Regions from separate parts of the Homo sapiens genome. Here regions 1 and 2 are each linked to region 3. The links come from fine-mapping of genetic effects on gene expression. Tissue or cell type: whole blood. Region 3 holds a variant in brackets; each other region holds the start of a gene. All regions are shown on one strand. Distances are between the middles of the regions.

The links. PIP is the estimated chance that this variant, and not a neighbour inherited with it, causes the effect.
Region 1: CIB2 starts here. The variant in region 3 is fine-mapped to the expression of CIB2 in whole blood (TOPMed, PIP 0.91).
Region 2: TBC1D2B starts here. The variant in region 3 is fine-mapped to the expression of TBC1D2B in whole blood (TOPMed, PIP above 0.99).

What each region holds. Positions count from the first base shown.
Region 1 is chr15:78,127,021-78,135,124 of GRCh38, forward strand. It overlaps CIB2 (calcium and integrin binding family member 2), which reads right to left and starts at 4,425. Exons shown (of 6, transcript NM_006383.4): 1 at 4,145-4,425. The coding sequence starts at 4,195. RefSeq lists a silencer at 4,130-4,649.
Region 2 is chr15:78,073,741-78,081,844 of GRCh38, forward strand. TBC1D2B (TBC1 domain family member 2B) reads right to left here and starts at 3,971. Exons shown (of 13, transcript NM_144572.2): 1 at 3,553-3,971. The coding sequence starts at 3,912. RefSeq lists silencers at 3,447-3,646, 3,847-4,056, 4,207-4,256.
Region 3 is chr15:77,951,526-77,959,629 of GRCh38, forward strand. No RefSeq gene overlaps it. Among named protein-coding and RNA genes, the nearest start is that of TBC1D2B, 120 kb to the right of the region's middle. RefSeq lists an enhancer at 124-624 and a silencer at 7,882-8,104. The variant G/C (reference allele first, on the strand shown) is at 3,445.

The DNA.
Region 1 (8,104 bases), 180 kb after region 3:
GCCTCAGTTTCTGCATCTGTAAAGTGGAAATAGGCCTCTCTGAAGGGGACAGTGTGAAGAGCAAATGAGATAAGGTACAGGAAGTCTATAGGCCCCAGCTGATAGGAAAGAGTACAACAGCTCCATCCACCACCCAGGTCCCAAAGGCATCTCCCCAGAGTCGGTAGCTCTGCTGTCTTTCCCTTCTCTGGAGTCACCAAACACCCTGCCCACCACTACACCCTCAGCTGCCCTGGGAGCTACAGCCCTATGTCTGAAGGAACCCTTTCTTACACTTTTGGAGAGCAAGTGCCCCATCACTGCTTGGTTCCTGACAGTACACAGGGACACAGGGACAGGTCTTCCGGCAAAGGTCAGGTCTGGGTCATGAGGAGTGGAAGGGAGGGAAGGAGAGAGGGGGCCTAACCCAGGAGTGATGGGCTCTCAGAACATTGGCAGCAGAAAACAGGACAGGCTGGGCTTTTACAGTAGAAGCCCAGACGTTTTCCCAGTTAAGGCTTGAGTTCTGCCTCCGAGCCTATATTCACCCTATTCCCCAACTGGAGTGCCCTCTCCTCTTTCTCCAGGTTGTCCAAACCCTTTCTCCAAAGCTCAACTCAAGGGTGACTTGTTCCAGGTAACCCACCTGCCTCCCATCTCCTACATGCCTGGTCTGCCTGTGCCAGCTGTCAGGAGCCGAGCCATGGGCCCTCCCAGCTCTAATGGAAATGGCTCTCCATCCAGCTCTGCCAGCTCAGGCCTCAGCACTGCCCAGGGGACCATCACACGGCTCAAGGTCAGTCTCCAGTGATCTTAGTTGATCCCCACAAGAACCCTGTGACATGAGCACAGCTGGGTTAGTAGTTCCCATTTTAGAGGTGGAGACACTTAGGCCCAGAAGGGAACAGTGGCTTGCTAAGGCCCACAGCATCAACTACCCAGCTGACTTGAATCTAGGGCTTCAGAATCTTTGTCTAGAGTTCTTTGCTCTCCTGGAGCCACGCCTTAACAAATATTTGTTCATTCATTTGACAACATCCTCCAAACATCTCTTTTGTGCCTGGACAGAGGCCATACAAGAAGGAAGCTGGAGTGTAAACAGTGAGGTGCCCAGTATAAACCATTCTGTGGCCACACAAGGGACTGGGGATGTATATGTGTCAGGCTCCCTGAGTACTCCCAGCTGAATGGATTGGTGGAGAGAGAGTCAGGGAGCCCGTCCCAAAGAGGTGAGGCCTGGCCTGGACAGAAAGATGGGCCAGACTAGGTTAGCAAAGGAGCAGGGAGAGCAGCAGGAGAACAAGGGCCAGAGGTGAGGGAGGGCTTGGCTAGAAGCCCTTCAGTGTGCCTAAAACTTTGGGTGCAAAGGGAAAGGGAGTAAGAAATGAGGCTGGAGGCCCGGCGCGGTGGCTCACACCTGTAATCCCAACACTCTGGGAGGCCAAGGCAGGTGGATCACCTGAGGTCAGGAGTTTGAGACCAGCCTGGCCAACATGGCAAAACCCTGTTTTTACTAAAAATACAAAAATTAGATGGGCATGGTGGTGGGTGCCTGTAATCCCAGCTACTTGGGAGGCTGAGGCAGGGAAAATTGCTTGAACCTGGGAGGCGGAGCTGGGATGCGGAGGTTGCAGTGAGCCGAGATCACACCACTGCACTCCAGCCTGGGTGACAGGGCGAGCGAGACTCCGTCTCAAAAAAAAAAAAAAGGAAGAGAAAGAAAGAGATGAAGGAAGAGTGAGAGAACTAAGAGGGCGGGTGGCTGGAGGGGGATGGGCAGGAGGGGCGCAGGAGGGAGCAGTCAGACCTCCAGTTTGCAGGAGACTGAGCAGGCCTAGCCCAGGGCCCTGGCTGTCGTGATGGAGGAGGGGACCTCCAGGTGACCCACAAAAGAGGCTGAGTCACAGGCCTTGTTCTTAACTGAAAACATGGGCTGAGGGAGAGCAGAGAGTTGAAATGGCTGGAGGAGCAGCAGTGGGTGTTGGAGAGGCTGTGACCCCTGTTTTGGAGTTTGAGGGGTCTGGGGGATGGCCGTACAATGCAGAGGAGTGTTCTGGACAGAAGCTTAAATGTTGGGAATCACCGGCACCGGGAACCAAGAGGGTGCACCCTGCCCAGGAAAGGTTAGACTACCAGGCTGGGAGGTCCCAAGAAACCCTAGGTGTCACTTAGGGGAGAGGGTGCTGTAACTCAGGCTCACCCCCACTCAGCCCGGGCTGGCAATGGCTGGCTGGAGAGCCAGAGGGTAGGAGATGTGGGGCTCTCAGGTTTCACAGCTCTCATTTCTCCCACCCCGCCTGGCAGGGTCTAGCTAGGCTCTGGCAAAGAATCAGAACATAACACTGGGACTGGCTCCGATGAGTAACCCAATGCCAGGCTGGTTGGAGTGGGAACCTGGGCTCCCCACCCCCATGAAGCTACTCCTCACTTCTGAGCATGGCTTGCCTGCTTGCCCCTGCCCACTCCCAAGCCTTTATCCACGCTGTCCCCTCCACCTGGAATGCCTCCTCTGGGCCCCACTGGGCAAAACCCGACCTATCTTCCCAAGGCCTGCTCAAGTGCTGTATCGTTTCTGGACTTTGTCCCCCTTCCCTGCTGGCCTCCCACTGCCCACTAGTGCCCTTCCCTAGAACACACTCCACCACCTGCCTCTATCACAAGGGCCACACACTGGAGGTGAGAGTCTGTCTCTGAGTGTCTGAGACTGAGTGCCTTGGGAACAAAAAGCACACATGGCCCAGCCCAGCCCACTCCCAACTAAAGAAGTGAGCCTAGGAGTCAAGATTCGAAATCCTGTGTGAGCCCTGAATGGCTCCTCAGCCTCTGTTTACACGTCTGTAAAATGGGCTAATAATCCACCTCACTGTGATGATCAAGTGAGTTGATGCGTAGAGGGCATCAATTACTGTGCCTGGTACACAGCAGGTGCTCCATAAATGCGTCTCCCCTCTTCCTTCCCAGGGCCTCACCTGGGGAGCTGAGAAATCCATTACTGACAACTAGGGCTTCTAGGAGGAGAAGGGGCCTTTGTTTTACCTTCACCCACATCAGAGGACCCACACTTCACACCTGCTTTCCTTCACAGCCAAAGTAAGCACTGATGAAGGCAACAAGTGCCTATGGAGACCCTGTTGGTGTTCCTCCTGCCCAGTTACACAGGCCACAACACAATCCTGCCCCCTCCGCCTGGGGAGTCAGGGGAGAGGCATCAGATGTGGGACTTGAAGGGTGAAAGAGATCCTCTGGAGGGGGGAAAGGCATCCAGGCCCAGGAAATGGCATGGGCAGAGGGAGAGAGGGAGGGAGGAATGAGCCTGGTGAGCTGGAGCAACTGCAAATGGTTTTAAGGCGGCTGCCATGCAGAGGGCAGGGAAGGGACCTGGGGAGACTGAGGCTGCAGAGATAAGCTGAGCAATTGGCCAGGGCTCCGGGTAAGCCAAGGGGTTGGGCTTCATCCTGCAACCACAGCGAAGTTTTTACCTGGGTGGGACGGTATTGGGATTCCAGATCTGGAAAGCTGGCTCTGGAGGCAGGAAAACCTAGAAAGGTCTAAGGAGGTGGCTACTGAGGGCCTAAGGGAGCTGGGAGAGGTGGCCCTGGAAGGCTGCTACCGGGCTTGCGTTCTTGCTCCAGTTATCTCCATGCTGGGGTCAGAAGGAGCGAACCCCAGCCGATAAACAAGACAGTCCCAAGGGAAGACTGCATGTGGGGACTGATGCACCCCACTCCTAGACCAGACAGGACGCCAGCTCTCATTTCTGCTTTACAGAGACTCGCTCTCCTGGGCTCCTTCCTGGGGCTGGGGGGCAGGGAGCGGGGAGGGCGGTCCTCCGTCCAGCCTAGTTTACTGACTCCCTCTCCGGGCCAGATGGGCGCTGGAATGGGTGGCTGGAGAGGGGTTCGGGTCCTGCCTAGGGCGAGAGTAGCTGGAGAGAGGCGCGCCTGAGAGGTTCTTCCAACTGGAAAGAGCTCTTATTCCACCGGTGGGGAAACTGAGGCACGGCGAGGGGAAGTCACCGGCCCAAGGTCACGCGTCGAGCTGAAGGCAGAGGCAGGGTTTGAACCTGGGAGAGCTGGCTCTCGGGAGGCCTCGGCCAGCGACCGAGAAAAGGGAGGGGCGGCGGGGCGGCGGGGCCTGTGTTGGGGGCCGGGCGCGCCGAGCTCACCTGGTAGTTGTCTAGCTGCTCTTCGGTGAAGATGGTCTGCTTGTTCCCCATGGTGGCCGCCGCGCCGCCGCTCGCCCGCCCGGGCTCCGACTCCCATCAGCGGCCGCCAGACCCGGAGCCAGCGCCCCGTGCCCGCGGCCCTCGGCAGCCCCGCGGCTGGCAGCGGCCCACGGTGGCCGGACCCTTCCCGCCCCGCAGCTCGCCTGGAGGAGGCGCGCGGGGGTCTCGGAGGCGGGGACGGGAACCCGGAGCGGCAGCGACTCCGCCGCCGGCGGGAAGAGGGCGGGGCACCCGGCTCCGCGGCTGCAGCGCGCCCGGGTCCCGGCAGGAGGCGACCTGGCCCCGGGAGACGCTGCCCGGCACGAACCCTTGGCTCCCGCGGCCGGAAGTGCTGGGGGCGCGCGGGGGTCTCGGAGGCGGGGACAAAGACCCGGAGCGGCGGCGACTCCGCCCCGCAGCAGGAAGAGGTGTGAGCCCGGGTCCCGCCGTGGGAGTCCAGGTCGCACGGCGTGAGGGTGCGGGGCCTGGGAAAAAACCCTCTCGAGGCGGGCAGTGGGGCGAGTGGCGCCCCTTGACCTGGGGCGGGGGCGGCAGCGAGGACTGTGAGTGCGTGGATCTAGCTGGGGCCGGGCTCCGCCACCGTCTCGCGTCGCGACCTTGGTCAAGCCCTTACCCGGGCCCTGTCCCTCTGGGGAGAAGGAGGGGGTCAGTCAAGCTGACATCTGAGGCCCTCCCGGCCAGGCCTCGGGAAGCCCATCTGGCCTTTGGGCGCGGCCTAGGCAGGGCATCTCAGACCTTCTGTGTTCCTTAGGGAGCAGGACAGGATTTACTTGGCTTGGTTACAAACGTGAGACTTGAGAGGATTTAAAGGACTTGACTGTGTCCACAGAAGTGTGACAAAGGCCAAGACATTTTTTGGAGCTTTTAAGCAGATGCCATTGTAAGGGAAGCAGGACTTTACCTCTGCCCTCCTAGGGTCTTTGGCTGGGCTTGAGAATTAATTTGGCATAAGACAGATTAAGGGGAGAAAAACAGATTTAATACAAGTTTTACATGACGTGGAAGCCCTCATAAGGAAATGAAGACCCTGAGAACTGGCAAAATCTAAATACTTTTTTTTTTTTTTGAGATGGAGTCTCCCTCTGTCGCCCAGGCTGGAGTGCAGTAGCGCGATCTTGGCTCGCTACAACCTCCGCCTCCTGGGTTCAAGCGATTCTTCTGCCTCAGCCTCCCCTAGTAGGTGGGACTACAGGGGCATGCCACCACACCCAGCTAATTTTTTTTTGTATTTTTAGTAGAGAGAGGTTTCACCATGTTGGCTGGGCTGGTCTCGAAATCTTGACCTCAGGTGATCCACCTGCCTCAGCCTCCCGAAGTGCTAGGATTAGAGGCCTGAGTCACCACGCCCGGCCAATTATTGTATTTTTTTTGTAGAGATGGGGTTTTGCCGTGTTGCCCAGGCTGGTTTTGAATTCCCAGGCTCGAGCAATCCACCCACTTTGGCTTCTCACCCAAAGTGCTGGGATTATAGGATGTGAGCCATCATGCCCGGCCTCATCTCCTGTTTTTTAGAAAAAGAAGGATGATCAAGAGTGCCCTTCTTGCATCTGCTATTTTTCAAGTGCCTTTAACTCAAATACTCAATATGCCAGAGCAGCATATGTTGTGGTGGCATGTTCTGAACTCCTTCCCCATCCACCAAATGGAGTCACCGCTATCTTTTTGGGGTCCAGCCCATACAACTGTTATTTCTAAACTCAGGACAACTGAATCAGTAGGTATTATCTCCATATTATAGGCAAAGAGTTGGGCTGAGAGAGGTTCAGTAACTTGCCCAGGGTCCCACAGCTGGGAATTAGTAGAACCTGGACTGGACCCAGGCACTGGCTCAACATACCATTCCACAACTGCCAGTGGACTTTGAAGAGATCAGGATTTTTTTTTATTTATATATATAAAAAAAAATAGAGATGGAGTCTCACTATGTTGTCCAGGCTGGTCTCCAACTCCCAGGTTCAAGTGATCCTTCTGCCTTGGCCTCCCAAAGTACTAGGATTACAGGCGTGAGCCACCATGCCTGGGCGAGATCAAGACTTTATGCTTTAAAATGCGTGGTTTGTTACTTTAGGATAGTGGTTCTGAAACCACCTGGGAGCATGTATCAAAATTACTTGGGAGGCTGCACCCCTAGATTTTCTGATTTAGAAGGTCTGGGGTGGCTAAGAATGTGGGTATCGAAAGGGTTCCTGGGTGACACTGATGCAGCTGGTCTTGGAACCATACTTTGAGAGTGCTTAGGCTGCTGAAGCTTGTGGGTTCTGATGGGAACAGGGCTTCAAGTTTGGCAGATGATCCCTCATGCTTTTAGTTTTCTTTTATATCTGAGGCTACTGGTTGGGGTTTTCCAACCTTATTTTGCCACTCCCTGGTGAGAACAGCAGCCATCAGCTAAACAGACATGTCACCCTGTTAAAATCACAAGAGTCTTCAGAGGCACCATCAATTGCTATCAGAGGGGTAAGAAGCAATTCATTAGCCTGGGGATTGGTGACCAGCCTTCAGGGGTCACCTCACCATCTTTTCATCATTGTGGACACATGCAATAGGGGCCTAACCCATGGGAAAGAAGGCAGGATGTGTCCCCAGAGATTTGGAGCATGTGGAATTTTAGAGCAGAGAAGGCACATTTAAAAGATTCTCTCTTCTGTACCTCCCCTTTTTCCTGTGTTGGAGTTGGGGAAAAGGAAACCCTTTTGAAACCACATAACCACTATTACACAAGTTTTCCTTCTTCCCATCTTATTAGATTCCACACTGTGCATGAACAAGCCAGAATTCTGTGTGTTCAGATCCTGCTCTGGCGCATTCTTGTACAATTGCTAACATGCTGCTTATTTGCATACCAGGTGTTCCAGGTAGAAAATCTGGAACCTATACAAAGAGGACTGTGTTTTCAGTCCCGGGAGCCCTTCCTCTCATAGGAGAGAAATAGAGGTAACCAACTGAACTAGAAAATTCCTCTCAAAAATCCTTTTAGGCCAGGTGCGGTGGCTCACACCTGTAATCCCAACACTTTGGGAGGCCGACACAGACGGATCACCTGAGGTCAGGAGTTTGAGACCAGCCTGGTCAACATGGCGAAACCCTGTCTCTGCTAAAAATACAAAAAATTGGCCTGGCGTGGTGGCGTGCCTGTAGTCCCAGCTACTCAGGAGGCTGAGGCAGGAGGATCACTTGAACCCGAGAGGCAGAGGTTGCTGTGAGCCAAGATCGTGCCATTGCACTCCAGCCGGGGCGACAAGAGCGAAACTCCATCTCAAAAAAAAAAAAAAATCTTTTTGGATCATTATTACCATGGCCTATCTGAAGCTCTCTCTCTTGAGCAATGCTGTGAGGAGGGGCAAGGAACACAATTCCCATGTTACAGATAAGAAACCTGGGGCTCAGAGAGGCCAAATGACTTGCCTGATGCCCCCCAGCTGGGAAGTGGCAAAGCAAAGCTCTAACGTCGTTCTCTGATTCCAAATCCTGTGCTTTAGCTGCTCCCTGATGTTGAGTGTGGTCCCTGAGGAGCAGAGTGTGTGTGTTTGCTGGGAGGGAGGATGGGCCGAGGGAGAAGAATAAAACATTACTGATTACTTATCTAGTGCCCAGAATTGTACTGGATGTGCTATATTTACTGAATTTGATTATTCCACAATAGCCTCCTCAGTCTGTGGAGTTTCATATTATTATCCCATTTCACAGGTGAAGAAATAGTTTCAGAGAAGGTGACTTGCCCAAGGTCACATAGCTGGTAACAGGTAGATTTAAATCTGGGCCCTGACTCTTTTCTTTTCTTTTTTCTTTTTTTTTTTTTTTTTTTTTGAGACAGTCTTACTCTGTCGCCCAGGGGCATGATCTCAGCTCACTGCAACCTCTGCCTCCCGGGTTTAAGTGATTCTTCTGCCTCAGCCTCCT
Region 2 (8,104 bases), 120 kb after region 3:
GCAGGTGGATCACGAGGTCAGGAGTTCGAGACCAGCCTGGCCAATATGGTGAAACCCCGTCTCTACTAAAAATACAAAAATTAGCTGGGAGCGGTGGCACGCGCCTATAGTCCCTCAGCTCGGAAGGCTGAGGCAGGAGAATTGCTTGAACCCGGGAGCCAGAGGTTGCAGTTAGCAGAGACTGTGCCACTGCACTCCAGCCTGGGCGACACAGCAAGACTCTGTTTCAAAAAAAAAAAGGGAGCAGGGTTTTAGAGTCGGGGTGTTTTTTGCTTGTTTGTTTGTTTGTTTGTTTGTTTTTAAGGTGGAGTCTCACTCTGTCGCTCAGGCTGGAGTGCAGTGGTGTGATCTCGGCTCACTGCAACCTCCGCCTCCCGGGTTCATGCAATTCTCCTGCCTCAGCCTCGCGAGCAGCTGGGACTACAGCGTGCGCCACCATGCCCAGCCAATTTTTGTATTTTTAGTAGAGATGGGGTTTCACCATATTGGCCAGGCTGGTCTCGAACTCCTGACCTCAAGTGATCCACTCGCCTCGGCCTCCCAAAGTGCTGGGATTACAGGCATGAGCCACCACGCCCGGCCTTCTCCTCCCTTCTTCCAGAAAGCCTTGCCTGATTTCCATTCCCATTGTTGTATACAGCCAACACTCGGTACTATCTTATTCTGTGACCAATTTAATTTTACATGTCAAAATATTCCTCCATTGTCAGTAACCCAAAGGAAAATGTATTTCCTTTCTTTAAAAAAAGAAATATTCTGAACCTACAAAAAGATGGATAGCATAATAGGACAAACACTGATATACCTATGACCCAGTCCAAGAAATAAAACACTGCAAAACAGGAGAAGCCCTGAGGCACCCATTCCCAATCACATCCTCCCTCTTCCCATCACAGGCAACCACTACCTGGAAACCAGAGCTCATCAGCCCCATAAAGCTCTTCCCCTCGCGAAAGAGCATACATCCTTATGATCTGTAGTACTGTTTCACATGATCTTCCTAACCTTTCTATAAGTGGTATCATTCTGAACACAATCAGTGTGTAACTTACTTCTTGTTCAATTTTATTGTTTGTGAGAGTAATCCACGTTGACACCTATAGCTCTAGTACCTTTGTTTACTACTGCATAATATTCCACTATATGAATACACTACATATTTGGCCAAAGACACTGCTTGATGTTTCATATGCCATGTAGTGCCTACTATTTTCCATACCACTATGGAAAATGCGCCAGCCATTTTCCATAACATTCTCCAGAATCCTCACAGCCACCTAATGAGGAAGGTATGATTCCCACTAGACCAAAGAGGAAACTGGAGCAGGGAACTGGTGTAATTTGTCCAATATGTGTGAGCAGCAGACTCCTGCTTCAAGTTCAAGTCCATCGAAGTTTAAAGCCACACTTCTGACAATGCGCCTTGTAACCCTGCTTATGTAGATTCTTATTTATTATTTTTTTTTTAATTTTTTTTGAGATGGAGTCTCACTCTGTCACCCAGGCTGAGTGCAGTGGCGCGATCTCTGCTCACTGCAAGCTCTTCCTCCCGGGTTCACGCCATTCTCCTGCCTCAGCCTCCCGAATAACTGGGACTACAGGCACCCGCCACCATGCCTGGCTAATTTTTTGTATATTTAATAGACATGGGGTGTCACCGTGTTAGCCAGGATGGTCTCGAGCTCCTGACCTCGTGATCCACCCGTCTCGGCCTCCCAAAGTGCTGGGATTACAGGAGATTCAGATTATTTTAATGAAAAAAACTGATAGAGTTCTACAGTCATCTGGGAAAAATGTGAAACACGATGCTCTATTTTCTTTAACAAACATCCCACAGGAAATTCGTCCGACACAGGGACAGCCCGTATGTACACTGAGGAAGAGCCTCTGCCTTTGGCAAAGGTCTCCCACTAGGGTCATTACCAAGTTTATACAGGCACTCTCTAAGTAAGCCTGTGTAGGACTGCAACCCGAGTTGGTTTTCTTTGGGGAAACAGGCTGTCTGCACCCACTTACAGACAGGACAGGGGAGCCCAAGAGAACATGGGAATCAGATCCTGCTTGAACTGGCAAAAGCTGAGTCAGCAAAGCTCTAAGAACATCTCCAGGGAGCAGCTCCAGCTGTTAGCAGCTCTGGGGGTCTGAGGAACAGTCCTCAGCTCACAAGGCCAGGAGTTTGCCTAGTCTGCTCTCCGTGTGGCCAGCTTTGAGAGCACTTTCATACATCCCAGCCCAACCCTGTTGCTCTGGAGAAAGCCCAACCTGGAATACGGAAGAGGAGTGAGAGTGAGGGTGGAGACTCACAGAAACCAGGCAGGGAGCAAAGCCTGGAAAAAGGATACCCAGCTCCAGGCCTGGGCCCAGATCCCTCCAGATGCTCAAAGCAGGTGGGCCCCTAGGAGGTGACAGTCTAGTCCCCCAGAACTCCCAAGGACAGGGGAGGCCTTTCAGCACCAGGACTCCTGACTCTACTCTCCTGCTTCTACACTGTATCTCTCATTTTGTCTGTCCACTGGAGGATTAAGGGAGCCTCAAAGGAGCAAGGCATAACTGGCTGAAAAGACCCCCTCCCACCCATCCTGGACAAAGCAAGGAGGAAGAACACAGGATCTGCCACCTACTGGCTGTGTGACCTTAGCTGGAGCATCCCCGTCCACTCTGGAGGAAAATGTAGTGGACTGTCTCTAAGGGCCCTGCCATCTGACTCTTTCTGTCTACAGTGCTAAATGCACTCTGGCTCACGCCTGGCATCCCAGCACTTTGGGAAGCTGGATGGGGAGGATGGTTTCGGCCCAGGAGTTCGAGACTAGCCTGGGCAACATAGTGAGACCCCCGTTTCTTTAAAAAAAAAAAAAAATTTAATTAGCCAGGCGTGGTGGCCCGCACCTGTGGTCCCAGCTACTTGGGAGGCTGAGGTGGGAGGATCTCTTGAGCCCAGGCATGGAGGCTGCAGTGAGCCGAGATCGCACCCCTGCACTCCAGCCTGGACAACAGAACAAGATCCTGTCTCAAAAAGAATAAATAAACAAATAAATAAAAGCACTGACATTTACTGAGCAGTTTAAAGTATAATTCATTTAATCCCAACACCCCATGAGGTAGATACTACTGTTATCCCATTTTACAGAGGAGGCCGCTGCAGCCCAGAGCGGTTCACTGAGGTACCAAGGCCATAGGCAAAGTTCTAAAGGAGGCCCCAGGGGTAGAAGCCTACGCTCACGGATGCCTGGGAAGGCTGCACAGGACATCCACGGGATGGTGGGGGTCGGGAGACACCAGAGACTGGCCCGAGGTTAGGCGCAGAGGGAGATAATGGGTCAAGGTGTCTGAGAAAGGAGACGGGGCTTGGTAGCCCCAGCGAGACTGGCCTAAGCCCAGATAGTGGGGAGGAGATAGGAACGAGGGCGGGATGTGGAGAAGCAGGGAAAGGCAGGCCGACGTGGGCAGGGGCGAGGAGGCCTTGGAGGAAGGAGGGTGGATGGCGCAAGCCAGTGGCGGAGGCAGGGGACGCCGGCGGAAGCGCGCGGGCGGCTTTGGGGCGAGCGGTCCCACCTTGAGCACCGTGACGGCTCCCGCGCTGTGCACCTGGAAGTGCGCGGGCGGCTCCGTGCCCGGCTCCGCCGCCTCGTCGGGGCCCTGGTAGCTGAAGCAGGCGTCCGCGATGTCCAAGTGGCCGAGGGGCAGCGCGTCCTGCGGACTCTTGAAATAGTAAAGGTAGCAGCGGCGCGCGTCGAACACGAACCAGCGGCTGCGGTAGCCACGCAGGGGGCCCTTGCCCGACAGCTTCTGCAGATAGCCACACAGCCGCGCTGGCTCCCGCGCCGGACCCGCCCCGGGCTCCGCGGCCGCCCCCTGCGCCGCGCCCTCGCCGCCGCCGCCGCCCTCCTCCGCCCGGGCTCCGGCCCCCGGCATCGCTACCGCGCGCCAACCGTAGGCGCCCGCGCCCTGCGCCTCCGCGCCGCGGCCGCTGCGCCCCCTACCCCCTCCGCACCGCCCCTTCGCTCCGCACGGCCCGCGGGCGCGCAAAGCACCCTGGGACTTGTAGTCTCGCCCCCGCCCGCCCGCCGGCCGTTGCCCCCTCAGCCCCCGGAGGCAGGGTCCTGCGACCAGCACCCCGCGGGTCAGTTGCCTTCGTGCCACCTGGGCTCCAAGTCCTCGCCCTGCCGGATGAAGCAATGGTCTATTTCTTTATGGCAGTGTAGGTACATGGGAGTGTGCATCTCTCAAAACCCAGCGGAGTGTCCGCTTAAAACTGCATTTCACACTGTGTATCTTATTCTAAAAACTTGATATTTAAATCTCCCTCCTGCCAGAGTCTCAAGCTAATATTGTAAAAATGAGACAGCCTATTGCCTGGTGCTGAGTGGGTGCTCAGTAAATATTTGCAGAATTCATGAAAGCCAAAGCGTTTCCTGCCTCTCCAGACCTCAGTTCATTTATTGAATTCAACATATATTTATTGAGCGCCTTCTGAATGCCGGGTACGGTTCTGTATGCCAGGCCCTGGCGGATACAGCAGTGAACAAACCAATCATTCTCCTGCCCTCGTGGAGGTTATATTCTAGTAAGGCAGGGAGGTGACACACAAGAAAGCAGATAAAAGTAATGTGTGCTATGTTGTATAAATGCCGTGATGACATGTAAATGATTACCGCTTAAAATAGCACCTAGTATTTATCAGTGCTTTATAGACTAACTTATTTGAACACTCACAACCTGAGAAGGCAAATCTATTGCTTTGTAATAAAGCAAAGAGAAAGAATGAATAAGACCAAGTATTTGCTAGCACAACAGGGTGACTACAGTCAAAAATAATATAATTGTACGTTTAAAAATAACCAAAAGAGTATAATACAGACGCGGTGGTTCACGCCTGTAATCCCAGCAGTTTGGGAGGCCGAGGTGGGTGGATCACCTGAGGTCGGGAGTTCGAGACCAGCCTGACCAACATGAAGAAACCCTGTCTCTACTAAAAATACAAAATTAGCTGGGCGTGGTGGTGCATGCCTGTAATCCCAGCTACTCGGGAGGCTGAAGCAAGAGAATCTCTTGAACCCCGGAGGTGGAGGTTGCAGTGAGCCGAGGTTGCGCCATTGCACTCCAGCCTGGGCAACAAGAGCAAAACTCTGTCTAAAAAGAAAAAAAAAAGTATAATAGGATTGTTTGTAACACAAAGGATAAATGCTTGAGGTGATGGATACCTTACTTACCCTGATTTGATTATTATGCATTGCATGCCTGTATTAAAATATCTCATGTAACCCATAAATATATACACCTACTATGTTCCCACAAGAATAAAAAATAAGTAAAAAGCAAAGTGAGAGGATGAAGTGATGGGGGGCAGATAGCAGGCTGCTGCCCCAGGACAGGCAAGGAGGCTGGTCTGATCCTGTGACATGGAGCACAAACCCAGATGATGGGAGGGACAGGGGCAACCAGAAATGTGGGTGAAGCATTCCAGGGAGAGGGAATAGTGAGTACAAGAGCTCACTTTATTCAAAGGAAAAAGGAAGTGTATAGCTACATAGCTACATTTGTGAAAGCCCAAACCAAATATCTCACCCTCATAGATTTGCATGTTTTATACAGACACACTGAAAGACCCAGGTGGAAAACTGACCTTTCTGAGCTGGACAGGGACACAAATTAGACTGCCTGTTTGGAGCCACCCAGGTAGGAAGGGCAGGTTCTGGGTCCTCACCCAGCCTGCCGACTCTCTGCAGGCCCTAAAGTGGCACCACGCAAGCATTCCTTTCCTGGGGCCCATCAGAGGTGTGGCTGACCTCTCCACCTGTCTTTGAGCACAATCAGCACAGTGTTAAGGACTGGGCTCTGACTTCACACTGACCAGATGTGTCTCCTAGCTCTGCCACTTACCAGAGGCATGACCTTGGGCAAGTGATTTAACCTCTCTGGGCCTCAGTCTCTTCATTTATAAAACAGGGTTGATAAATACAAGTAGCTATCTCGTGCTGTTGTTATTGAAAGGGTTACGTGAGAAATGCATATGAAAGTGCTTAGCACGGTGCCTCACACATAGTAAGCACTCAGCACATATCAGCTGTTATTATTATCATCTTGCAGTTAACACCGATGTCTTCCTCATCAGTCAGCAGATTCGGAGAGGGGGAATCCAACAGTCAGACCGGGCCCAGACAAGGGAGGCCAGACACTGCGGTGCTGCGGGAGTGGAGTGGGCTGCTCTCGGGAGCAAGGGGTCCCAAGTTCAATTTGGGCCTCACCATGTATGTAAAAGGGGCTGTGACTAATTGGCTTGTGGGGTAGGCAGTCAGGGTGAGGTCTGACCTTGAAATACTGTGGGAAAGGGAAGAGCTGGGAGAACCCGGTCTGTATTGCCATGGTACAGGGAGGCAACAGGACAGGGGAGGGTGTAGCCCATCTCTCCTAGATCTATCAGTAAGTTATAAGGAAGTGGGGGTGGCCATGACCTGTGGTCCCAGTGGACAGGACCAAGCCCCATGAGGTGTCTCACGGGGGCCGATGTCTGCTAGGCCCGAGGAAGGCATCCTTCACAGGCACAAGCCACGAGCCCCCCTCCTGGACTAAGAGTCTGGGCTGGCTGGCCAGGGCTAGGCAGATGGGACGGGACAGGGGTGCTGTTTTAAGCGGTAATCATCTACATGTCATCACGGCATTTATACAACATAGCACACATTACTTTTATCTGCTTTCTTGTGTGTCACCTCCCTGCCTTACTAGAATATAATCTCCACGAGGGTAGGAGAATGATTGGTTTGTTCACTGCTGTATCCGCCAGGGCCTGGCATGCAGAACCGTACCTGCTGTCTGTGCCCCTCAGTGGGCAAGCTGGACTTCAGCCTGACTCCCCTACACCTGAGCCTCCAATCCTTCCCTGGTCACCCAGCACAGATGAGCTGGGGCCATTTTAAAATGCTTGCAGGGCTGAGTGTGGTGGCTCACGCCTGTAATCCCAGCACTTTGGGAGGCCAAGGAGGGCAGATCACAAGGTCAGGAGTTTGAGACCTGCCTGGGCAACATGGTGAAAACCAATCTCTACTAAAAATACAAAAATGAGCCAGGCACGGTGGCACGTGCCTGTAATCCCAGCTACTCAGGAGGCCGAGGCAGGAGAATCGCTTGAGTCTGGGAGGAGGAGGTTGCAGTGAACCAAGATCGTGCCACTGCACTCCAGCCTGGGTAACAGAGCAAGGCTCTGTCTCAAAATAATAATAATAATAAAAATAAATAAAATGCTTGTAAGCCACTGCCCTCTTCCTTCTGGAGGCCACACCTGACATCATATCAAACATATTAAAATGCTCTACATCCCGTAGTAAACATATACATAATTTTTGCTATGAAAATGTTTTCAGGAATATCCATAATTGTGCTCTTGATATTATCTAATTATGAGTTTTCATTTTCATTTTTAATTGGCTGATTTCTTGGCAATCATCGTGTCTGTGTGGGAATTTTGGCCAAGTGAGAGAAACCTAACCTAGAAATTGTTCTCAAATGTAATGACCTTTTTTTTTTTTTTTTTTTTGGAGATGGGTCTCATTGTGTCACCCAGGCTGGAGTGCGGTGACGCTACCTCAACTCACTGCAACCTCCCCCTCCTGGGCTCAGGCAATCCTCCCACCTCAGCCTCCTGAGTAGCTGGAACCACAGGTGTGCGCAGCACCACGCTCAGCTAATTTTTGTATTTTTTGTAGAGATAGGTCTCTGCTATGTTGCCCAGGCTGGTCTCAAACTCCTGGTCTCAAGTGATCCTCCCACCTTGGCCTCCCAGAGTGCTGGGATTAAGGCATGAGCCAAGGTGCCCAGCTCTGTTATGACATTTTTATGATGACTATAAAGGTGACATGTTACATTTGTAGACATTTAATTAGATGTTCATTAATTCTAATTTTGCTGTTTTTCTTGGGTTTTAGAGCCAATACATTTTTCTTAGGCCACAAACATTTCACAGGCCTCTCAAGCAGGCAGGCCCAGGCACTGAGCTTTTTAGTATATTAGGGGATAAACTGGCCTGGCCCCTGCCTCGGTCTGGCCGGGTCCAGAATATGGCCCTCTGAGGAGGCTGCACAGACACAGGCCTGAGTCCCCAGTGAGAGTG
Region 3 (8,104 bases):
GCCTCAGCCCACCCCAGCCCAGCACCAGATCCCAGGGACTGATCCACCTGTAAGAGGGCAGCATGGGACTGCCCCCATTGCCCCCAGAGAGTCCCCTCAGTCATGGGCTCTGACCAGGGTGCAGGTGGGCCCAGCAGGCTGGCCCAGCATGGGTGTGGCTGCCCATTGGTCCTCTGAAGAGCCTCAGGGGCTTGTGGCAGCAGGTGTATGTCTGGGCTTGGAAGCAGAGGATGTCCCGCAGCCAGAAGGCAGGGGGCACTTGTTTTGCATTCCAGTCCTCTGCAAGGACAGGGACCCCAGGCTCTGGGCACCCCAGCTCTGCCCACCCTACACCCACAGCCTACCACCATTTGGCCCAGGCAAGTTGCCCCAGCTCCCACAGAGGGAGCCACCCTTCCCACCTCCTGATGTTTGCCCACCCCAGTCAAGTTCCATTCTGGAAAAACCCTCCACATCCTTGGGAAGGCACCTCCTCCTTGACTCCTTTCCAGTGCTATCATCCCCACGTTCATTTTCTACCTATCATTGGATGCAGAGACCCGCTTCTTCCCTGGGCCAGGGCTGCTCTGGAGGCAGGGAGGTTGTGACCAGGCTGTGGGGTATAGCAGAGCACCGGGTATAGACCAGACTCCCCAGGCACACCTGGGCAGAGAAGTCAGAGACCCACAGGTGAATGCCCCTCTTTCCAGCCCCACCCACCTCACAGGCAGAAAGAGGGAGGCTTCACAAGGAGGTTGAGGTAAATAGGGAGCCCGGGTCACCTCTGTCTGATCTCCTGCCCTCCTGGGACAAAGCCAGAGGTTGGAGCTGGGAGGTGTTGAGAGCCCTGGCCCAGCCCTGGTTTCACTGATGAGGCTCAGGGAGGGGCTGGGTCAGCCTAAGTCACTGGGTCCATAAGGAAGGGCCCTTTCCATAACCCAGGACCCTAGAGCTAGCCGAGGCCACATCCCTTTCCCACGTAGACCAAGTAGGGGCATGAACTGGCTTCTGGCTTCTAAGGCCGAGGCCCAGCACACCTCTCCCTCCCCTTGCCTGCAGCTGTTGTCACACATCAAAAGTGCTTTTTTTCCCCCAAGGTGCTGGAGGCGCAGCTCCTTGGGCTGGACCAGGTGGCCAATCCAAACAAGTCCTTGTGTGTCCCCCACCAGCCAGGAATTCTCATGCCATGCAGCAGCTGGGGGCACTAGGATACCCTGGGGGATTCCAGGGATGAGCCCTCCCTGAGGCTCCTACAGCAGCACTGCCACCCCCAGACCTGCCACCAGCTCCGTTTCCATGCAGCCTTCAAGAACCTGGCCCCTCACACACACCTGCCCCACTCCTCACACCTGGCTTTCCTGTGAAACGTGGAACTGGTTCCACCTGGGCCAGCTGGAGAAGGGCCTCAGGAAATCACCATTTAGGGGGTTCGTTCCAATCATTCATTCATTTATTCACCAAATACCCACTGTCCACCTTTCTGTACCAGGCCAGAGGTGATGGGTCAAGCAGAACACATGTCCCAAGGAGCTTTCCTCTCTTTAGAGACAGGCAGGTGGACTCTCACACCATGAGGTGCCCTCTGGGCTAGGGGGTGCCCAGGGCTGGATGCAGGGGCGGCCCTCGCCCACAGGAGGTGCTGGTGGGTACTGACGTGGAGGCCACCAGGGGGTGAGGGTGTCCAGACAGAGGACCTAGCATGTGCCCAGGCCCAGGGTGTGACCGGGGGCAGGTGCAGGGCTGCTGTATCTGGAAGGCTTCCTGGCTCTGCCAATGATAGGCTGTGGCTGGATCAGGCTTCATGTCAATTTTTAACATTTAATAAATTTTGATTATGTAACTAAACATTGTGATAAAAATTGTGAAATATAAAAGCTAAAAACACAAAAACCAGCAAACCCCTTCTCTCCCCAAGTAACTACTTCAACAGTATTTTCAGACTTTTTTTCTCATGTATCTGCAGCTATAAACATAAGCTGCACAAGATAGTATCCTTCCCCATATTCTACTTTGGAGCTGGATTTTTCACTCAGCAGTGAATAGAGGCAGGCTTTAAACAGGCCACGCATTGTGAGGGCCCTGGGAAAGGAGACTGACCATGTTGCTGGGTGACCTTGGGCAAGTCTCGCCCTCCTCAGAGCCTGGATTTCCTCAGTCCGGTGAAGGGCAGGAAGGGCTGCAGTAGGACTACATCAGCGCTTCCCAAACTCAGAACCGCCACGTGGAGCTGTGTGAGCTGTCACTGCACAACCCCAGGGGCAGGAGCATTCTTGTCACGGCCTCTGTGAGTGGGGCTCCTGCCCAAAAGTGTGCTGTGCCAACCTGGGGCCCACAGGAGGATTTTAGGCGATATGCGGATGAATTGATTTTTACCATTTCCTTCTATCTGTAGTGAATGAGACCGATTCTCACCGGGAGGGCGTGTTAAACCACAGGTCGCTGAACCCACGCCTCAGAGGTTCTGATTCAGGAGGTCTGGGGTGGCGCCTGAGAATCTGCATTTCTAACAAGTTCTCAGCTGATGGGGATGCTGATGCTGCTGGCTCAGGGACCACACTCTGAGAACCACTAACCACAAGTTTCCTTTTATTCATTTATTTATTTAAGGCAGGGTTTTGCTCTGTCACCCAGGCTGGAGTATAATGATGCAATCACAGCTCACTGCAGCCTTGACCTCCCAGGCTCAAGCAATCCTCCTGCCTCACTTCTTGAGTAGCTGAAACCACAGGTGCATGCCTCCACGCTGGATTTTTTTTGTTTTTTGTAGAGACGGAGTTTCACCATGTTGCTCAGGCTGGTCTCAAACTCCTGGACTCAAGCAATTCACCTGCCTTGGCCTCCTAAAGCAAAAGTTTCCTTTTTAAATACATTTATTTAGGTTTTAAAAATGAGTTGACTTAAAGCACAGGAATAGATCTTCAACACTAACCACTGGGGAAATGCAAATTAAAACCACAGTAAGATATTACTACAGATCTATTAGAACAGCTCAAATCAAGCATAGTGATAGTATCAAATATTGGTGAGGATGCAGACAAAACTAACTCTCATACATCGCTGGTGGGAATATAAAATTTTACAGACACTCTAGAAAATAGTTTGGCAGCTTCTTTAGTTAAACATACACCTCAATATATGACCTAGCAATTGCTTCTGGGCATTTGTACCAGAAAATAAAACTGATTTTTGCACAAAAACTCATACATGATTGTTCATGGCAGATTTATTTGTAATAGTCCCAAACTGGAAACAACCAAATACTCCCCAATAGGTGAATGGTTAAGCAAACTGCTACATCTATTCTATGAAATACTATTCAACAATAAAAAGGGAGCCAGGCATGATGGCTCATGCGTGTAAACTCAGTGCTTTGGGAGGCCGAGGCAGGCAGATCACCTGAGGTCAGGAGTTCGAGGCCAGCCTGACCAACATGGTGTAACCCTATCTCTACTAAAAATACAAAAA[G/C]TTAGCTGGACATGGTGGCGGGCACCTGTAATCCCAGCTGCTCAGGAGGCTGGGGCAGGAGAATTGCTTGAACCTGGGAGGCAGAGGTTGCAGTGAGCTGAGATCACACCATTGCACTGGGCAACAAGAGCAAAACTTCATCTCCAAAACAAAAAAACAAAAAGCCAGCTATGATGATGGGTGCCCATAATTCCAGCTACTCAGGAGGCTGAGGCAGGAGAATTGCTTGAACACAGGAGGTGGAGGTTGCAGTGAGCTGAGATCGCGCCACTGCATTCCAGCCTGGGTGACAGAGTGAGACACCATCTCAAACAGAAAAAAACAATAAGGAACATGCACAACTTGGATGGATCTCAAAGGGCATTTGCTGAGTAGAAAAAAAAAAAAAGCCAGTCTCAAAAGGCCACATACTGTGTGATTCCATTTATACAATGTTCTTTTCTTCTTTGGTTTTGTTTTATTTTGTTTTTGAGATGAACTCTCACTCTGTGGCCCACACTGGAGGGCAGTGGCATGATCTCGATTCACTGCAGCCTCTGCCTCCCGGGTTCAAGTGATTCTCATGCTTCAGTCTCCCAAGTAGCTGGGAGTACAGGCACGCACCATCATGCCTGGCTAATTTTTGTATTTTTACTAGAGACAGGGTTTTGCCATGTTGGCCAGGCTGGTCTCAAACTCAAGGCCACAACAGTTCCACCTGCCTCAGCCTCCCAAAGTGCTGGGATTATAGGTGTGAGCCACCGTGCCAGGCCTTCATTCATTCATTCATTGAGAGATTCTCACCCTGTCTCTCAGGCTGGACTGCAGTGGTAGGGTCACTGTAGCCCCCACCTCCCAGGTTCAAGTGATTCTCCTGCCTCAGCCTCCCAAGTAGCTGGAACTACAAGCTGGTGCCACCACGCCTGGCTAATTGTTGCATTTTATAATGTTCTTGAAGTGAAAAGATTATAAAGACAGAAAGCAGATTAGTGGTTGCCAGGAGTAGGAATAGTGGAGGGGAAGAGCCAGGAATGAGTGCAGAGGAATAGCAGGAGGGGGATTTTCATGGTGGTGGAACAGTTCTGTGTCTTGATTGTAGTGGTGGTTAAAGGAGTCTACATATGTGATTAAATGGCATAGACATGACATTGTTAGATATTGTCCTACATTTATACAAAATAGAACCTTTGGAGGAAGCTGAGTGAAGAGTACATGAAACCTCTCTGTACCATCTTTGAAATTTCCTCTGAATCTATATTTCCAAATAAAAGGTTAAAATTTGTAAAGTTGCTTTAGACAAAAATATTAAAAATAATATTGATTCTATGCAGGTCTGGCAAACCTTTGACACATTGAATGACTGGCATCTCTAACCCATCCAATGCACAATTGCCCCTGGCCAGGCCCTGTCCTAGGCTAGGTCACCTGCTGGAAGATAGGACTCTGGACTCTCTCCTGCTTGGCTTTGGGGTAGAGATGCTAGATAAAATATAGGACACCCAGTTGAATTTAGATTTCTGATAAAAAATCAACTTTTTTTTAGTAAGTACGTACCATGCATATTTAGGACATACTTATACTAAAACTTATTTCTCTCTATTCTTTTTTCACCATCCTTCACAGGTGTTGATATTTCTCTAAATTCTTTAATGTATGTACAGTTACTTTAAAGCTCTTGCCTAATAATTCTAATGTGTGAGCCATTTATGGGTCTTTTCTTTTTCTTTTTCTTTTTTTTTTTTTTTTTTTGAGATGGAGTTTTGCTCTTGTAGCCCAGGCTGGAGTACAATGGCGCCATCTCAGCTTGCTGCAACCTCCACCTCACCTGGCTGGTCTTGAATTCCTGACCTCAGGTGATCTGCCTGCCTCAGCCTCCCAAAGTGCTGGGATTACAGGTGTGAGCCACCATGCCTGGCCCTTTTTGTTTGTTTGTTTCTTTGAGATAAGGTCTCACTCTGTTGTCCAGGCTGGAGTGCAGTGGCATGATCTCAGCTCACTGCAACCTCCACTTCCCAGGCTCAAGCCATCCTTCCACCTCAGCCTTCCAAGTAGCTGGGACCACAGGCACATGCCACCAGCAGTCCTGGCTGGTTTCGTGGAAGACAATTTTTCCACAGACGGGGTTGGGGGTGGTGGTTACGGTATGAAACTGTTCCACTTCAGATCATCAGGCATTAGATTCTCATAAAGAGTGTGAAACCTAGATCCCTCGCATGTGCAGTTCACATTAGGGTTCACACTTCTAGGAGAATCTAATGCCTGCTGATCTGATGGGGGGCGGAGCTCTGGCAGTAATGCTCGCTGCCCACCACTCACTTCCTGCTGCGCAGCCTGGTTCCTAACAGGTCACTGACTGGTAGAGCCCACAGCCTGGGGGTTATGGACCCCCACACACCACCACACCCAACTCATTTTTGAATTTTTAGTAGAGATGAGGTTTTGCCATGTTGCCCAGGCTGGTCTCGAAGTCTTGAGCTCAAGTGATCTACTTGCCTTGGCCTCCCAAAGTGCTGGGATTACAGGCATGAGCCACCATGCATGGTGGGTCTGTTCGTATTGACTGGTTTTCTCTTAATTTTAGGATGTATTTTCTCACTTTTTCACTTATCTAGTAAGTATTTCTTGATCTGTTGGACATTGTGAACCTTCATTGTAGAGATATGGATTATGTTATCCTACTCTAGTGTTGAGTTTTGTTTTGCAGGGAATTAAATTACTGATGGGTTAACTTGATCATGTGTGTCAAGGCTACATTTTAGGCTTTGTTAGGGTGAGCTGTTTTTCAGTTTTGCCCTTATTCCTAGGGAATCTTCCTTAATCCCAAGGCATGGCCTTCTAGGCCCTCTGTGAATGTCTGGGATATTCATCAAGACCTGAGATTCCAAGAGTGGAGACTCTGGTTGAGCCAGAATTCGGGTGTATCCCCAGCACTCTGTGACCACTGAAATCGATGTTTAGCTTTCAGCTCCCCATCGGCTGTTCTGTGCTGGGCCTTGCAGAGTCTCAATCCACACATTCGTAGTTTGGGATTTGGCCAAGGACCTGCAACAACCTCTATAAGATTTCTGGGGCTCCTTCTCTGCAACTCCGTCCTTTCTGATACTCTGCCACACACATTTTAGCAGCCCTGAGTGGCAGTCCCTGTTTCCTCCACCAAACAAGACTGATCCTCTTGGCTTGGACTCTGCTTCCTCATGCTGTCATTGAGGGTTTGGAAACTTTCCCCACCAGAAAAATGTAGCAGTCACTTCATGTGATTCCCTTCTCTCAGTTTGTACCTGGAACTGCCTATTGCCCAATGCCTGAAGACAATTTCTTCATGTACTTTGTCCAGCTTTGTAGTTGTTTATGCTGGGAGACCATCATCAATTCAGGTACTCCATCATGGCCACAATTCGAAGTATGATTAATATCATATTCATTCTATTCTAAAAGTAGAGAAGACAAAGACCAACAATTCTAAGAAAAATTGAAAAAATATATGAAAGTTCAAAGAAAAATGCAAATGCCACTGACACACAGGAAAAAATGTTTAACTTCACTGATAATAAGAAAGATACAATTTTAGGCTGGGCGCAGTGGCTCACACCTGTAATCCCAGCACTTTGGGAGGCTGAGGTGGGAGGATCACTTGAGGCCACGAAGTGTAGGTGGCAGTGAGCTGAGATGGTGCCACTTGGGGTGACAGAGTGAGATCCTGTCTCAAAAAAAAAAAAAAGATATATAAACAACATCCTGCAACCTCTACATGTGGCCATGATTGATAACAGGGACCAGATTTGCCTCCCACCTTGAACAACTAGAAAAATGGAACAACATATATAAAACAATAGTTTTCGGACATTGGAGAACAGGTCGAGCAGAACTATGATCCCTAAAAGAAGGTGAACCCTACAGTGTCCTCAGTTTACTGCCGGAAGCAATCACAGGCTCCAACACAGCAGGGGAAATCCAAAGTCCAGTGACGTGTACACCACTCTTGAGCTGTTTTCTATTAACCTCCAGGTCCTTCAGGCCAGCCCTCCTGGGGCTCTGCCTTGGGAATTGGTATTGGTAACAAAGGGAATAGAGAGGAACATGCATAGAGCTCTCCATTTAGACTGACATATTCACACTGGGTTCCAGTTTCAGCTGAGAGACTGTAAGCACATCGCTAGCCCACTCTAATCCTGTATCCTAGCTGTGTAATCACCTATTTCCCATCAATTGCAAGGCTGGAGAGAAAAGTGCCCACTCTGGCCAGTACACAGTAGGAGCTTAGTAAGCTTAAGCTCGCTTGCTTCCCCACTATCCTAACGTATTAGGGGAAAGACAGAGATGTGGGGAATGGCACCTGGGAGGCTCCAGCTGTATGCTTCACAATCCTACCAATGAAAAATCTGAATTAGGCTTCAGTTTCCCTTCTACAAAATGAGACAGGACAGGAGTGGGTAGGAAGAGGAGGAGCTGGGCTTTGTTGGTTTAAGCTGGGCCCTTCTGATTCTGTAACGTGAACTTCACTGTTGGGTCCAGCCCATTCCCCTGCCGGGGCTTCGCGTGCTCTGTCTTTTGGCCAAGTCCAAGTCTGTCCAGGGTTGGGGTGGGGAGAAGCAGTTCCCCCATATAACCTGCAGGTGGCACCAGAGCCGCGCGGGAACCGAGGGTTCTGTTCCAGCCTTCCTGGAGACTCGGGCAGGGTGGG